2 separate regions of the Homo sapiens genome follow, and region 1 is linked to region 2. Evidence: fine-mapped expression QTL. A gene starts in region 2. The other region holds a variant in brackets. All regions are shown on one strand. Distances are between the middles of the regions. Region 1 overlaps NDRG1 (N-myc downstream regulated 1). Region 2 holds the start of NDRG1 (N-myc downstream regulated 1).

What was found. PIP is the estimated chance that this variant, and not a neighbour inherited with it, causes the effect. A credible set is the group of variants that fine-mapping cannot tell apart.
Region 1: its variant is the best candidate, but not a certain one, in a credible set for the expression of NDRG1 in blood mononuclear cells (TOPMed, PIP 0.70).

What each region holds. Positions count from the first base shown.
Region 1 is chr8:133,263,914-133,266,679 of GRCh38, forward strand. It overlaps NDRG1 (N-myc downstream regulated 1), which reads right to left. Exons shown (of 16, transcript NM_006096.4): 4 at 634-739. Among named protein-coding and RNA genes, the nearest start is that of NDRG1, 32 kb to the right of the region's middle. RefSeq lists an enhancer at 1,750-2,250 and a silencer at 1,853-2,147. The variant C/T (reference allele first, on the strand shown) is at 1,657.
Region 2 is chr8:133,295,667-133,298,432 of GRCh38, forward strand. NDRG1 (N-myc downstream regulated 1) reads right to left here and starts at 1,586. Exons shown (of 16, transcript NM_006096.4): 1 at 1,468-1,586. RefSeq lists a silencer at 1,467-1,916.

The DNA.
Region 1 (2,766 bases), 32 kb before region 2:
TCAGAAAAAAAAAAAAAAAGAAAGAAAGAAAAAGAAAAAAGAACGAATAAAGTGTGGTAAATCCATACAATGGAATATTATTATTCAATAAAGGAATAAAGGAAATACAAATATTAATGCATGGCCTGGATAAACCTTGAAAGCACTAAGAAAGAAGCCAGTTACCAAAAAAAAATCACATATTATTTGATTCAATGTATACAAAATTCCAGAACAGGCAAATTCACAGAAAAGGAAAGTCAATGAAGGGTCAGTCATCTGAGGGTGGGGTGACAGATAAAAGGTACAGGATTTTTTGGAAGGATGAAAATGTTCCAAAATTGTGCTGATCGTTGCACAATTCTGTGAAAAGACTGAAAACCATATGCGTGCATTAATATAGAAGTCACTGCCACAGATAGCAAACAGCTTCCTGTGTTCCCAGCGCCTCCGGGCACACAGACAACTCCGTGCCCACATGCAGCGCATTTCTGGCTTTTCCAGGCTGTGGCAAGAGTTCTTCCCAGAACAGCCCCAGGAAGTCCCAGGCAAAAAGAAACCACCAGCTCCCGGCCATCAGCCCTTCTCGGCTGCCTTTTTCCGCCACTCTCTTGGGAACCGGCTGACAGGGAATCAGAGCTCCTCAGAACTTACGGTTCATGCCGATGTCATGGTAGGTGAGGATGACAGGCCGGTTTCCCTTGGGAGTCCCACACAGCGTGACGTGAACAGAGCCATGTAAAGTCTCGATGTCCTGCTCCTGAGGAGACACAGCAGACAGTGGGCTGGTCATGTGGGGTTCATGGCATCCGCGTGGCTGAAGACAGCCAGCCTGTTTCCAACTGTGTTTTGAGGAAGCTCTCTTCTCATCTGGCCATAAGAGCCCCGGCTTCGGGCAGCAGCTCTCTCTGGCCAGAAGCCACTCCAAGGACCAGGGCTAGGAGGGGACTCCCAGGAGGCAGGGGACAGAGGCCTGGCTCAGACTGCGCTGTTAAATGCACCAAATGCTGGGGAAAGGGCTTGCCCGCCACCATCTCTGCCCCGGACTGTTTGCTCCATCTGGAAAACAGGCCATCAAGCCTGCGCTTCCTTGCTTCCTTGCCCTCAGGCCCCACTGGCCCCACAGGTTACTGTACCTGTGACTAACATCTGCTGGCTTGGGGCTACACAGAATTCACTCCCCACTTCCAAGAACAGCCCTCAGTTTCCTTCAGGAACCCACCCAACCCTCACCCTCAGTCCTAAGTGTTCTGTTGACAGTGACCCCCCTCCCCACGTTTCACAAGTCAAGGCCAATTCATGCACTCCACCTCCCAGTTGCAAGGACTGGATCAGGAAAGAACACATGGGTTGGCTCAGGCCAACTAAAGCCAGCTGCACTTATTTCTAGTAATTGGGGAACTGGATCGGACTTGATGGAGCAAGGTTGGGAGGGCTGGATCTGTAGCAGCCACATTGTCACCGTGAGGCAAGGGCCTGCCTGAAAGTATGGCCAGCCCAGGGATGGAAAAGAGTGAAAGACGGTTTGGGGATGGCATCCACCACCTGGGATTTTCAGTTACACGGCCCACCAACTTCCAATCCCATGTAAGCCATGTTGAGTTGACCAAAAGATTCTGAATGATACCATGCCCATCCTCCCTCCTGCCCTTCCTTCTTGTTGAGCCAGATGGTTCT[C/T]TGGGTCAAGGCCAACTCTCCAGCTCGGCCAGTGACCCCCAGCCAGCTTACTCCCAGTCATCCCTGCACCTCTCCGCACCAAACCTTCCTAACAGCTGAAGACCTGCTCACCTTTCTTCCTCTGGAAAACAAAAAAAAAAGGCACCCTGCCTTGGTTCCAAGCACCCCAGCTCACTCATGGACCAATCTGTCACCTGCCATGTTCATCTAAACTCCTGCAGAGGGTGGTCGTGACTCTTTCTCAATTGTCACTTCCACTCACCCTTCACCCCATGCCTACCCTGGGCTTCCGCCCTCCTCAAGGTCAACCAGAAGTTCCCGAGGACCCCAGTCACTCATCTCCCTTGAGCAATTTCCACATCTGAGAGCAGTGACCTCCCCTTTGAAGTGCCCCACTCTGGGCTCTGCTCCCACAGGGCAGTTGGGGAGCAGGAGGCAAGGCCATCAGGCTGCTGAGACCTGCCAGGTGTCAAGGCAGTGCTGAACCATGTCCCTCCATGTCCTCACCCTCACAGGAGCCCTGCCAGAGCCATGTGACCCAGCTGGCTGAGGAAGTGAAGTCAGTATCCCAGAGTCACACGGGCAGGCAGCACAGAGGCAGGTCCCCCAGACAATCAGCCTCCGCGGGGCCCCAGGCTTCTCAGCACTTGACCCGCCCGCAAGCGGCGCACACTCAGGCCTCACGAGGCCACCTCAGCTCAGCACGCTGCATTGATTTTCCAAAGATTAAATGAGGCAGTGAAGTGGAACACAGAACACTCTAAATGCTGTTGAACCTGCTTCTAGAAGCTGGCAGAAATGCGACCCATACAGATCACTGCCGTGTGGCAGCAGAGAGGAAGGTCAGCGTTCACAAACTCACGCTTGAGAAGAAGGGATGGGACAGATCACCACTTAGGCACCCTGTGGGGGCAAGTCACCTCCTCCCCAGCTTGAATCTTTAAAACAGGAACAGCCTGGCCCTTCCTACCTCCTAGAGGTGCTGAAGGCCCAGAGAATGTAGGCTGCTCCATCTGTGAGTGACCCCCCGTGAAGTGGTACGAGGCAGCCACCCCCACGCCATCCACACCCGCTGGTGATCGGATTCCACCTCTGCTACTTCTTACCCCT
Region 2 (2,766 bases):
TTCGCCTTGAAACTACATTTCTGCAGCAAGAACAGGGGGTTTGTATTTAGATATGTTCTTTTGAGGCAGCTTAGGAGAAGGTCCCGTGCAGCTGATGGGTATTATAAGGATGTCTACCGCCCTCCTGCCTGGCCACTGGCTGACTTCTGAATATTAGATATTTCCCAGTAGCTTAAAGAAACCAAACAAACTGAAGTGCCCCCAGCGTCCGTGAGGAAGGGGTGTTCTTGGATGGGCATAAGATAACCAAGGGCCCTGCCTCCCCCACCCACTGCCAGGCATCTCCCACTTCCAAGCCACAGAGGCGTGCTGTTCAGGACCCCCAGGGACAGCAGGGACAACAGGCGGGGGATATGGGGGAGGGGTGGGTAAGGAACCGACCCACTAAATCCCAGCTCCAGCTACTAATTTGACAGAGGCGTGACAGCGTGTTTCCCCCAGAACCAGCCGCATTCCCCAAGCCCAGCCCGAAATCTCCTCCCGAGGCTGAATCAGAGACCGCGGCGGATCCCCCAGGAACGTCGAAGTAATTCCAGCTGTTTTCCCCCGTGGAGGGCAGGAGCGGCCAGCACCAGAGGCAGGGGAGGGGAGGAAAGCGGGGGAGGGTGGGCGGAGGCGAAAATGACGCCACTCCTAGCTCCAGCCAGCTCAAGGGGCCGCCAAATGTCCGCGAGACCCCTCTCGCCCAGGTCACTTCTCCCACGCCGCCGATGCGCCAATCCCGGGTTCCTCCGGGGGCGCACCCTGCCCAGTGGCGCTCGCAGACACTTGCTCCGGCTCGCGTGTTGCACTGTGACACACCCTGGACCCTCCCCCCACACACACGCTTACACTCACACATGCACACCGCCCTGTGTGTGCTACGGGACTGAAGCGCCACCAGCCTCTCGGATCCACACCCGTTCCCGACCCAGTCTGCAAGCCAGACACACCCACGCCCCCCTCTCCAGCCTCCTTGCCAGCGCCACTCACCTCTACCAACCCCTCATCTACACACTCGCGCGCAATCTCTCCGTTCCCAGACACAGACACACACACACACACACACACACACACACACACACACTCACCTAGTCCCTTCTGCACCCACGTCCAGCGCGCACCCCTGCCAGCGGCGCCAGCTGGGATTCGGAGACGACGCCAGGAAACGCTATCCTGGTATTTTTTCGGACCGTCTCATCGCCCCCTTCCCGACCTCCAGAACCCCAATCCCCAGCTAGGGGGGAGATGAATGGGACCCTGTCTTTTTTTCCTCCCTTTCCGTAATTGAACCCCCCACTTCAGCGGTGTCTGCACCCAAAGCCCCCTCGCGCCCGCGCCCCGGGGTGACCGCGCACTTGCAGCTCCGGGGCGCTTACTCCTGGAGTACGCGGGGCTACAAAGGGCGGTCCTGGCGCTCCAGCGGCACCGCACGGGCGGCCCCTTTCTGCTCCGCGTCGCGCCTGGGAGAAGAGGGCGCGGGCTTACCTAACGCGAGGGAGAAAGGAAAGGACGGTGCCGAGGCTGGCGGCCCAGCGCCCCGCGGAAGCCGAGGGCGGATGGTGAACTGACGAGCTTCAGCACCAGCTGGGAGCCAGGCGAGGTTTGTTTACGTCCGGGCGGAGGGCGACTTTATAGGCGCCGCGGCCCCGCCCCCGCGCCTCGCCCCTCCCAGACCCTCGCAGTCCCAGCACGCAGCCGGGACACACCCCTTCCCCGCTCCCTGCTCCCTCCTCCCGGGCGCGCCGGGCTGGGCTGGGCTCCGGCAGCGCGCGGCGGGCGCCCACTGGAGCCGCCGCCTGTTGCGCAAGCAGTCGTAGGGGCGCGGCCGGGAGGGGCATCGGGGCCCGGGTTGTGGGTCGGCTCTGCAGTCCCCTCCGAGTCCAGGGCCTCGGCCTGTGCAGCGGGCGCGTGTGCCCTGCCCGGAGGAGGCGTTTGTGTGCTTGTGCGTGTTCATGTGCGCGCTCGTGCGTGTGCATGTGGACTTCCTTGTGTCTCCGTATGGGCGGAGGCCCCCCATCTCTGCCTCAGAGTTTCTTCTAAGAGTCTCGTTGCGCCACGCCCTGAGCGACTCCCTTCACTTCCTGTAGGTCTCACCAGCTCGGCTCTCCAGCCGGATTCGGCTGCCTGCCCAGCAGCCGCCTTCGCTTTCGCCCGACAGGCTCCCTCCGATTCTCAGCCTTCCGTGTCGCCAAAGCTCTCGCTGAAATCCTCGCTCCCGTTTAATCTCGTCCATCTTGCCCACCGCCGCCCAGCGCTTACCCTTCCCCTCATCTTCCCAGTTCTAAGCACACTCACTGGACCTTGCCCACTGGGCTCTTCTCTCCTGCCCCACAAGCCCAGATGAGAGGATTCTCACCCCTTCCTATTCTGATTTCCTGAACTTTCATGACTCACCCTTTCCAACCTTAGCACCGTCCTGCTCTGCTGCTCTGTTTGTGCGTAACTATTGGCCTGCATGTTCCCATCTGGCCAAAGAAACCAGCAATTCTCAACCCCTACTGCATATGAGAAGTCCCAGAGGAGCCGCCAAATTAAAAAATAAATAAATAGATAGATAATAAAAAGAGAGAGATGGACTCCAGAACAGTTTAATCAGAATCTCAGGGGGTGCAAACCAACTGGGCATTGGGGTTTTTACAAAGCTACCCAGGTGGCTCCTGACGTGCAGCCAGGTTGAGAAGCACTGCATGGAGGAACATGATTTTATGAATAAAGGAAGTCTGACTCACAGCTGGCACCGTCATTGTCCTCAGGCCACCTGCCCAGCGTTGAATTTGCCACTGA